Linked DNA regions of Homo sapiens. The protein of the gene in region 3 purifies or fractionates together with the protein of the main gene of each other region. This does not show direct contact. Each region holds a gene or a part of one and is shown on either strand. Other genes may lie near its edges.

Region 1 (3,649 bases), on a different chromosome or scaffold from region 3:
AATATTTGGTTTGGGACTAGAGGAGATATATATACATATATAAAAAAGATGATTAACACTGAATCCTAGTATAAAGATAATCTTTCATCATCACATAAATTTTGTGTTAGTGCCTATTATATGATTGAATATTCTGAGCTGCTGTTATTAATTTCTGGAATTTCAGATTCATAAAATACATTTTTAATGCATCATAAAATACTCTCAAGTCTACTTGGTTTTTCTAAACCTTTATGCAACCAATACTCACTATTTGGAAAGTATATTATTTCAGTTTCTTTTCCTGTAACTTTGTGGTGTTCTGCCCTTCAACCCCTGGGCCACAGAGCATTACAGGTCCATGGCCCATTAGGAATCAGGCCGCACAGAAGGAGGTGAGCAGCAGGGGTTAGTGGCGGGGAGTGGGCTTTTCCACCTGAGCTCAGCCTCCTGTCAGATCAGCTGGGACATTAGATTCTCATAGGAGCACTACCCCTATTGTGAAGTGCACATGCAAGGATCTAGGTTGCATATTCCTTATGAGACTCTCATGCCTGATGATCTAAGGTGGAACAGTTTCATCCCGAAACCATTCCCCCCAACAGCCGTCCGTGGAAAAACTGTCTTCCACAAAACCGGTCCCTTGGTGCCAAAAAGGCTGGAGACTGTCATTGTAGCCCATTTATTTTACTCTCCTGACTCCCACCAGGATTAACACTATTGCAATACTTTAAGTGTTGAGCAGTTGGGTACCATACAAGAAAAAGATCAGATGTTAGTAATTAATACCACATGTAAAATAGCTGATTATATTAATAGTTGCAGTCTGAATTAAACACCAGTTGTGTTTCTCAGCTGAGAAAAATTCTGAGAAAACAAGCTATCTCAAACTCTGGAAGAGAACAAATTGCAAAATACAATATTACAGCTTGGAGAAACACTGGATAACACAATATCACATCTTAAAGTCAGAACATTATTTCCTAATATTTATGTAATAACAGAAATACGGTGAAATTTTATTTCACATTTAACTCTTCCACTAAAATTGTACAACTTCAGTTTTATAATTTCCAAACTTCACAGGACAATGAATCCAAAGGCCATTCTCCACAACTCTAGCTCGAAAATAAAAGAAATCACAAAACAAAGAATCACAACTCTTTCCTATGCTAAGCCAGTCAGGCTAAAAATAGCCCCCAAATTTCAGGTATAATACCAATTCAGGTTTAAATGGAATAAGAACCAAGGATTCTCCAACAATGCACAGCTAAGGTCAAGAGCAAAGCTGGATTCACCTTAGGGTCTTCACAGATGCATCAGAATAAAAAGATCCCTTAGGAAATCAGAGAAAACAGTGCAATAAGTAAACAATGGTGAATTATTCCAGTTAATATACATGATCCTCTCATAAGTATATTTACAGACCATTATTCTACTTGAACAGTGGAACAGAGCAGAATCATCTTATTGAACTTTTCTGGTATATATTATTTCTGAATATACAGTGGAATTACAGATGGGCAAACGACATAACAGTACTCTGTCTCCAACATTGAACAGAGACGCATTTTAGTTAAGAGACTGTGGTAGCAGCTGCCCTCCTTAAAAATGGACCCCCAAAATTTCCAACTTTGAAACCACGGCCAAATTTTTACTGATACTTACAAACTTTCAAGATAGCATCAAAGGTCATACAAATTGAAACAGTCAACAAAGTGCCATGAAAATCAGCATTATTGTACTATTACAGACAAAGCTTTCTTTAAATGTATCTAGTTTAGGAATTAAACTTTAAGTAATATTAATGAAATCATAATATCAAGTAGTAAGAGATACAAAACAAAATCCAAGTCCCTCTTGCATTTATAATTGGTTATATCAAAGTAACAACCTAATCAGATTTTTCCCTGTAGGAAAAATTAAGACAGAATTTCATTCCTAACTAAAAGCCTCAGGTTCAACTTTTTTTTGTCCCATTGCTCTTAAACACAATATTTAACCACAATGTACTTACTATATAAAATGTCTAATGAACAGATAGTAACCAATCCTTTAAGGGTAATTAATATGATGGTTTAAATTTATCACTGACAATTTCATCTCCGTAATTTTTCACTTTAATCTTAATTTTTCTTGAGGAAATATTCAACATTCATTCATTCAACAGATATTTAGTGAGGCCTACTAAGTATCAAGCTCTATTCTAGGCTCTGGGAGTACACCTATGAGGCCCATCCTCAGGAGTTTACTCTATTAGGGAAAAACATGTAACAAGCAAATAAATATATACATAACACATGGAGGTGGGAACAGCAGGATCAAGTACTACTTTCACCAGGTTGACTCTTCAATTGCAAGAAATCCATTTCAGAGCTGCTGTCTCATCCAAACTAGTAGATTTACCAGGAGTTGTAAAGCTAACCCAAGTCACAGTTATCTTTTAATTATATTCTCCAATCTTTTCCCCTCTTAACTTTTCACCCTTTAGTGGTATCATTTTATTCTGACAAAAGACCTCAAGGCTCCCACTTTGATGGCCTAAGTGGTACAATGCTAAATTTAGCGCTGATAGTGATTTCTGAGGACAGGTTTCCCAACTGACTCACCACTTCAACACTAGAACTTATCAGCATGTGCCTAGTACAAAGTAGGCATACTCTTGTTTGGTGAAGAAATCAATCCATAAAAATCAATCTCCAGCACGAGTTATAACAAAAGCCTTATAAACATTATCCTTAATAACAGCTTTTCAAGGATTTACCAAGTCTGATTAAAAATAAAAGATTTTTCTTCCCACAAATGTTTGGGAATATGTACAGACAAATGACTGGTAACCCTCAAATAAATCATCTTTTTCAAAACATTTTTTAGAACTTTGCTTTAAGGCGGCCGGGCCCAGTGGCTCATGCCTGTAATCCCAGCACTTTGGGAGGCCGAGGCGGGCGGAACATGACGTCAGGAGATGGAGACCATCGTGGCTAACCTGGTGAAACCCCGTCTCTACTAAAAACACAAAAAATTAGCCAGGCGTGCTGGCACGCGCCTGTAGTCCCAGCTAGTCAGGAGGCTGAGGCAAAAGAATCGCTTGAACCCGTGAGACAGAGCTTGCAGTGAGCTGAGATCGCGCCACTGCACTCCAGCCTGGGCAACAGAGCGAGACTCTGTCTCAGAAAAAAAAAAAAAAGAGAGAACTTGCTTTAAGGCATTCATTGAAATCGGTTTACCAACCACACAAGAAACTATCCCCTTTTTTCTCTTTCACTTCTTTTAGTCTATTCCCTGTCTCCCCTGTAACTGCACCACTAGCCAGGAGACTCCCCTCCTAATTTCCCCTCAGGACCCACCCACCTATCCACCAAGAAAATAGTGAGCAATAAAACTACATGGAGCCTAGGATTTACATTCATTAGTACAAGGAATATACAGAAAAAAAAAAAAACCCGATGTACTACCACTATTTCTATAATGACTGGCAATTTACAAAGTTATACCCTCCATCATCTTATATGATCTTCATAACAATGTAAGAACAGCAAGAAAGGTGCTATTACCCCAATTTTACACAGAAGGAAATTAAAAGCTTAGAAAGTTCAAACTAGTTCCCCAAAATCCCATCATAAATAAGTGATAAAGTTGAGACTCATCCCTTATAGTGCTTAACATACAG
Region 2 (3,649 bases), on a different chromosome or scaffold from region 3:
CTCTGTCTCCATAACCCCTCACCCACAGGAGCCCGTCCTGTTTGGGACGACCATCATGGAAAACATCCGCTTTGGGAAGCTGGAAGCTTCCGATGAAGAGGTGTACACAGCCGCCCGGGAAGCGAATGCTCACGAGTTCATCACCAGCTTCCCCGAGGGCTACAACACGGTCGTCGGTGGGTGCTCGGGTCTGCCGGGAACCAGGTGGTGAGGCACTGGGACACAGGATTCCACAGGAGCAGTGAGCAGCCCAGTGGGACTGAGGGCAGCAGGGACAGCTGGGGAGAAAGACAGTTGTGTCAGGGAAGACGAGAACCACAGCCAAAGGGGACAGAGTCGTTGTGTGGGGACAGGGGAGTCCAGGCCAGTGTGGTTCAGAACCAGCAGACCAGGCAGGCTGCAGAGACAGGACGGGCTCTAGGAGGAGCTGGAGAATGCGACAGAGGGCATATGACAGGCTCCTGGCCAGGGACACAGTGATGCATGGTGTTTGGAGTCCTCACCGAGTCTAAAAGGCCGCCACTTCCCCAGACTGAACAGAAGAAATGGGGGGCTGCCTCCTCTCCACCATCCATCCCCCTCTGGCTCCTGTTTCCTTCCTGTGCTTTTCATCTCTAAAGTCGTTTCTCATTAGAATCGGGGTGACTGGATGGGCCCCAGGAGAGGGCTCTGGTGGTTCTGAACTAGGAACACGCAGCCTGGCACTGCAGGGCGTGCACCTTGCAGCTTGACGTGCGGAGCTCCCAGGTCTTTTTCCAGCCTTCGGGGCCATGTTTCTCGGCCAGTGTCTTGGCTCTGTTGCACAGTGTTTCAGCACTTCTCAGGATACAGGGATACCTGGGCTTCTCAACTCTGGTCAGTCTGAGTCCAGCCTTCTGAGCTGTGGGGCCAGTGTCCCCAGCCCAGCCATCGTGTTCTAGATGGCTCCTCCAGCCGTGTTGATACACTGTCCAGATGCCAGCTGTCCTCACTGGGTGCTCTCCCACATCTCTTTTGGGTGGCACTTTCCTTGTGTCTCTGATCCTAGTACTTTCTGCTCATTTGGGCCTTCTTGGGGCTGCGTCCTTACTGACCTGTCACCCTGCTGTCACCTTGAGGTTCTTTTTGGCTCCCAGGCTGCCACTTGTGCTGTCCTCTGTGGGCTTCGAATCCCACCTCCCTGGAGTCACTGGACCCCAGAGCCCATGTTTGGGTGCTGGATGTTCCCCACAGCCACAGAGACCCGGGAGGCTGGGAAGGTGGCTTGGAACTGCAGGCACAGGGCAGGGTGTGGGTCATCCTGGCCTGAGGCACTGCCATGGCTGGGGAGGGGCATTTGGCAACTCCCTTGGAGTGCACCAAGCCCTGCTGGCGGTGTCACACCACCCTCAGAGGCAGGGCAAGTGTGCACAGTGGCTGAGGGACCCAGAGGTGGGATGAGCCAGTGCAGGGGGAACCCAGAGGAGGAGTGTACACAGTGTGGGGTGGGGGGTCAGAGGCAGGAGGAGGGTGCACAGTGCGGGGTGGGGGTCAGAGACAGGACTAGGGTGCACAGTGCGGGGTGGAGGGTCAGAGACAGGACTAGGGTGCACAGTGTGGGGTGGAGGGTCAGAGACAGGACTAGGGTGCACAGTGCGGGGTGGAGGGTCAGAGACAGGACTAGGGTGCACAGTGTGGGGTGGAGGGTCAGAGGCAGGACTAGGGTGCACAGTGCAAGGTGGAGGGTCAGAGGCAGGACGAGCGTACACAGTGCGGGGTAGAGGGTCAGAGGCAGGACGAGGGTGCACAGTGCGGGGTGGGGGGTCAGAGGCAGGAGGAGGGTGCACAGTGCGGGGTGGGGGTCAGAGGCAGGAGGAGGGTGCACGGTGTGGGGTGGGGGGTCAGAGGCAGGAGGAGGATGCACAGTGCGGGGTGGGGGTCAGAGGCAGGAGGAGGGTGCACAGTGCTGAGAGGGGCACTTAGAGGATCTTGATGGGCGTTCAGGAAGGACCCTGTGCCCCTTTGTGGGCCACCCTCAAGTGCACAGCTTCAGGCTCCTGCCCTGCCCCTCCCTTCCCAGGTGAACGGGGCACTACCCTGTCTGGGGGCCAGAAGCAGCGCCTGGCCATCGCCCGAGCCCTTATCAAGCAGCCCACGGTGCTGATACTGGATGAAGCTACCAGCGCGCTGGATGCAGAGTCCGAGCGGGTTGTACAGGAGGCCCTGGACCGGGCCAGTGCAGGCCGCACGGTGCTGGTAATTGCCCACCGGCTCAGCACTGTCCGTGGGGCCCACTGCATTGTCGTCATGGCCGATGGCCGTGTCTGGGAGGTTAGTTGTCCTGGGGGCGTGGATCAGTGGGTTGAGGATGGCTTCATCACGGACAGTGGCACAATGCTGCAATGAGTTATATGAAGTTGTGGCCTGGCCCCAGGGCCTTGGGGGCTATATTCTGGAAGCAGCGTCCCATATAGAGTCAGGAGTTCCTGCATTCAGCCAAGCCCTGGCCTCTCAGGCCCTCAGTTTCTTCTTCTGTCCCCTGGGATAGTATAATTGCACCATCAGCTCCCAGGATCAAAAGGAAAAGTACTAGCCGGGTGCCTGTAATCCCAGCACTTTGGGAAGCCAAGGCAGAAGGATCTCTTGAGGCTAGCCTGGGCAGCATAGCGGGACCCTGTCTCTACAAAATACCAAAAAAAAAAAATTAGCCGGATGTGGTGGCATGCACCTGTACTCCCAGCTACTCTGGAGGCGGAGGCGGGAGGATTACTTGAGCCCCAGAGGTTGAGGCTGCAGTGAACAATGATTGTGCCATTGCGCTCCAGCCTGGCATCAGAATGAGACCCTGTCTCAAAAAACAAAAAGGAAACATACTCAGAGTATGGTGCTGGGAGCAAGGAGCAGGGCTAGCTGCCCAGGGTATCAGGTGCAGGAGAAGCAGCGCCAAGGAACCTGTGCAGGGAGTCAGGAGTAGGACCCCAGAGGCCGTGTGGCGTTGGCTAACAGCCACTCATTCAAGCCAAGGCTGAGGGGCTCGTGCAGGGAGACGGATCCTGAGTTGGAGCCTTGGGCTCTGTAAGGGGGACAGAGGGAATCATGTTCTTCCAAAATTCAGCTAAGTAAGGAAGTGGCAGTAACTAATGCAGCATGCCAGTGGCGGTTCCTTTCAGATTGGGCATTGGTTTCAGAGTGTCCCCAGAAGGGACACCGGCCTAAGTGACCATGGGCCCAATGGCTGATAGAGAGGCTCAGCTCTCTGAGGGTTCTGAAGCCTGCATGCCTTGGAGCAACCATCCGCCCTTCCCTCCCATCTTCCAGGCTGGGACACATGAAGAGCTCCTGAAGAAAGGCGGGCTATACGCCGAGCTCATCCGGAGGCAGGCCCTGGATGCCCCGAGGACAGCGGCCCCACCGCCCAAAAAGCCAGAAGGCCCCAGGAGCCACCAGCACAAGTCCTGAGAAGGGCCCCCTGAGGTGTGGTCGCTGCCAAGCATCAGTGTTAGGGCTGGGGCTCAGCCTGGGGGAGCCTACTGGGGACTGAGCCCCCAGGAGGGCCAGCATGTGGAGAGTCGCTGCGGCTGCTCCTGCTCACAATAAAGCCGGGGCCGAGCAGCTGGCAGGGGAGGCCAATCCCTCCCTCCCCTCCCCAGTCCTGCCGGCTGCCTCCCTCCCACCAGAGTCTGCCAGAGTC
Region 3 (3,649 bases):
TTATAATTTCCAGTCTCTTTCCATTGCCTCGGCGCATACTCAGCCAAGCCCTGAGCCTGTGTCATTCACCAGCAAATACTTACTGAGCACGTAGCAAAAGCCAGGAACTGTTCTAGGTGGTTGGGATACATCTATAATCAAAACGGACCAATTCCCTGTCCTCATAGGGCATACATTCTAGAGGAGGGAGACAGACACTACACAATAAATGGGATAAATGAGTAAATTAGGTAGCATTCCAGAATTAATGAGTGCTATAGAAAAAGAACAAGGAGAGCTGGGTAAAGGGGATCAGGAGTGTGGGTGTGGGTGGTGGCAATTTTTAAAAGGGTGGTCATTGAGAGCATGTGAGCAAAGCCTTGCCAGGAGTGAGAGAACTGGCCATGTGGATATTATGGGGTTGGGTGAAAGTGCTTTCCTCTAGGCAGAGGAAACAAAGGTTGAAACGAAGCAAGAGTCTGGCTGGCTTGTTTGAGGAGGACTCAAGCCTGGAGCTGGGCAAGTGAATAGAAGGTAAGGTCAGGGAAGTAAATGGGCTGGGGACAGGGAGAGGGGCAGATCAGGTATGTCAGGTTGGCCACTCTCAGACTTCAGCTTTTGCTCTAGTGACATTCAGATGCAGGGCAGGGTTTTGGGCAGCAGTAATCTCACATTATTTCCGCCCCCTCCAAGATGGAGTCTCGCTCTGTCACCCAGGCTGGAGTGCAGTGGCGTAATCTCAGCTCACTGCAACCTCTACCTACTGGGTTCAAGTGATTCTCCCGCCTCAGCCTCCCCAGTAGCTGGGACTACAGGCGCGCGCCAACACGCGCGGCCAATTTCTGTATTTTTAGTTGAGACGAGGTTTTGCCGTGTTGGCCAGGCTGGTCTCGAACTCCTGACTTCAGGTGATCTGCCCACCTTGGCCTCCCAAAGTGCTGGGATTACAGGCATGAGCCACTGCGCCCGGACAGTCATCTTACATTTTAAAATAATCTCTCTAGCTGGTATGTTGAGAACTGAGTATAGGGGAGTGAAGGCAGAAGCTGACTGGTTATAAGGCAAAAATCTTGGAGTCATCCTTAATTTCCTCCACCTCTCATAGCTCTTGACTCTACCCAAACACCCAGGTCCTGGGAGCTTCAGGACCTCTCCAGCTCCCTGGACCCTGGTTGCTGGCAGAGCGAGTAGCTCAGCACCCGAATGCCTGGGACTAGAGCCCCCGCGATGAGATGTGCAGGACCCGACCACTTCTCATCCCCTCCACTGCTAGCACCCATCTAAGCAATCCGAGAGTTTTCACCTGAGTGACTGGAAGGAAGGAGCTGCCATTCACTGAGACGTGGAAGGCCATGAAGGGAGCAAGGTTTTGTGTTTTGTTTTGTTGTTGTTGTTGTTTTTAATAGAGAGGGGGTTTCGCCATGTTGGCCAGGCTGGTCTCAAACTCCTGGTCTCAAGTGATCTGCCTGCCTCGGCCTCCCAAAGTGCTGGGATTACAGGCATAAGCCACTGTGCCTAGCCCCAGAGGAGCAGGTTTTGAAGGGAAAGTAAGGAGGTGAATTTTGGGAAAGTTGAGTTGAGGTATCTATCAGATGTCCATGTGGAAATGGCAACTGGGCAATAGAATGTGAGTTTGGGGTTTGTGAGAGAGATCTGGCTGGAGGTGTGTATTTGGGGATCATTAGCATTTTGATGGTATAAGAAAAGAAAGTAAGGACCTTTAGTGGGTCTGGGAGAAGATGGGAAACCAGCAGAGGAGACAGAAAATGAGAAACTGGTAAAGCAGGATGAAAACCAAGAGAATGAAGTGTTTTGGAAAGTCGAGTGAAGAAATTCTATCAGGGAGGAGGGAGAAATTAACTGCAGCAAAGGCTGCAGATAGGTTAAGAAGATGAGGAAAGGAAATTGATTGTTGGTTTTAGCAGCTGGGAAGTCATTGATGATAAGAGCGGTTACAGTGGAGGGCTGGGGACAATGACTGATTGAAATGGATTTAAGATAATGGGGGAGATGGGAGAAAGGAATTGGAAATAGTAAATGTGGGTTATTGGGGCAAAATGTGGGAGTAGGTAAAATCCACCCCTTCCTTGTGTATTTCCCTTCTGGGCGGAAGGGGGCCATGTGAGTCCTGCGTAGCAGTGACAGTGTGCCAGTGGCCAGACTCCTCGGGGGTGGGGCCCTGAGCTGGCGAGGCGGCTGAAGAAGCTTGACATTTGAACTATTCCTCCAGCCCTCCACCCTCAGCTGCCAGGAGGGAAAGCAAATACGATTTTCTACTAGGGCCTGCCCAGTTAAAGTTCCAGTCATGGGACGAGGAGATGCTGGATAACGCAGGAGGCGTGATGTGGGAAGAAGGTAGCGGGAGAGGGTTCTGGTCATAGGACTGTCCATAGCCAGCGGGGAATTTAAATCACCTTCCTGCCTATCTCAGCCCAGATGAAAAAACCGTCTGCCAACATTTTCACTTAATTTCTAAGTCCAGGTTGCTGAAATTTCACTCGGGGCAGAAGTTACCCGTGCCAAGAACCTTTTAAGTTTTCCACTAGTCTCAGGACACCAGCTGGAGACCATCTTTTGCGAGGACTTCCTCCCTGTCCCCTCCAACTCCTCTTCAGAGCCTCAGTCTTCCCATACCTAGGTCCTGGGTGCTTCAGAACACGGGCCTTCAGCTGAGACCTCTCCAACTGCCTGGACCCTGGCTGCTGGCAGACCAAGTTGCTCAACACCCAGAATTAACTTGGGACTGGAGTCCCCATGTGAGGCCACGACAGGAGGCACACAGCAGGACCTCTCAGAAGGGCCTGGAGGGGAAAGATCCCTCAGCTCCAGCCTGTAAAGAAGGTGCACTGGGATGCCCACACAAAGAGGATTCCCTTGGCAGCAAGGAAAACCATTAGCCCTGTGCTGTTTATAGATAGCAGAGAATAAAGAGAAATAAGAAGCACTGTTCGTGTGTTCATATAAAAGTAATGGTTAATTTAGCAGTGAGTGACAGTGTGTTACCAAGTGTAGTTAATGACTCAGGGCCCACTGTTGGTCAGGCTCATGCCGAGGACAGCACATAACTCCTCATGGAAGCTCCTCGCTCTTCTGTTGCTCAAGTGGAAGATCGTCAGTTTATGCCGTAAGAAATTGGCTGGAACGTTACAAGTGACACCACAGAGCGTGCTCCTTTTGAGAAGGGGGGCCAAGAGAGTGATTGCTTTCTGGGACGGGGATATGGTCTCTCCTATCTCACGGAGAAAATGCCAGCACATTTTAGAATTTTTGAGGAGACTAGTATGGATGATATGGGGGTGCAGGTTACTGTGAACTCCACCCCCCATCCCCAGGACTAACTTCATCTTTTGATGGTGGTACCTGCGGAGGGGAAGAGGCAGAATGCCCTTCAGCACTCCTCAGTCCGTACCTGGCCCCCTTGGCTCCCTCCCACCCCGACCCCTCTCACACTTCTAGGGCCTGTAGCCCCTCCTTGCAGGTGTGGACTTTGTCCCTCTTGGCAGGCTGCCAAGGAGCTCAACGAGGCAGAGGAAGGAGGTGGGAGCAGCTGACCACGGGGCCCAGAGTTAAACATTGGCTTGGTTTATAGAGAAAGAGCAGGAAGCATGAATATGGGAAGGGGCTTGGGCTGGGCCCATAGCTGTTTCTTTCTGGACTGGGCTCTCCACAG

The links.
Region 1: the proteins of SLC6A13 (region 3) and SNX13 purify together in Homo sapiens (affinity purification with mass spectrometry; one large-scale study listed by BioGRID and IntAct). This does not show direct contact.
Region 2: the proteins of SLC6A13 (region 3) and ABCB8 purify together in Homo sapiens (affinity purification with mass spectrometry; one large-scale study listed by BioGRID and IntAct). This does not show direct contact.

What each region holds. Positions count from the first base shown.
Region 1 is NC_000007.14:17,930,393-17,934,041, forward strand, and holds part of SNX13 (sorting nexin-13), read right to left. Parts: intron 1-3,649. UniProt on the Homo sapiens protein: May be involved in several stages of intracellular trafficking. May play a role in endosome homeostasis. Acts as a GAP for Galphas.
Region 2 is NC_000007.14:151,041,933-151,045,581, forward strand, and holds part of ABCB8 (mitochondrial potassium channel ATP-binding subunit), read left to right. Parts: intron 1-28; coding exon 29-176; intron 177-2,038; coding exon 2,039-2,289; intron 2,290-3,276; coding exon 3,277-3,417; 3' UTR 3,418-3,649. UniProt on the Homo sapiens protein: ATP-binding subunit of the mitochondrial ATP-gated potassium channel (mitoK(ATP)). Together with pore-forming subunit CCDC51/MITOK of the mitoK(ATP) channel, mediates ATP-dependent potassium currents across the mitochondrial inner membrane.
Region 3 is NC_000012.12:252,716-256,364, reverse strand, and holds part of SLC6A13 (sodium- and chloride-dependent GABA transporter 2), read left to right. Parts: intron 1-2,617; exon of another isoform or gene 2,618-2,923; intron 2,924-3,649. UniProt on the Homo sapiens protein: Mediates sodium- and chloride-dependent transport of gamma-aminobutyric acid (GABA). Mediates transport of beta-alanine. Can also mediate transport of taurine and hypotaurine.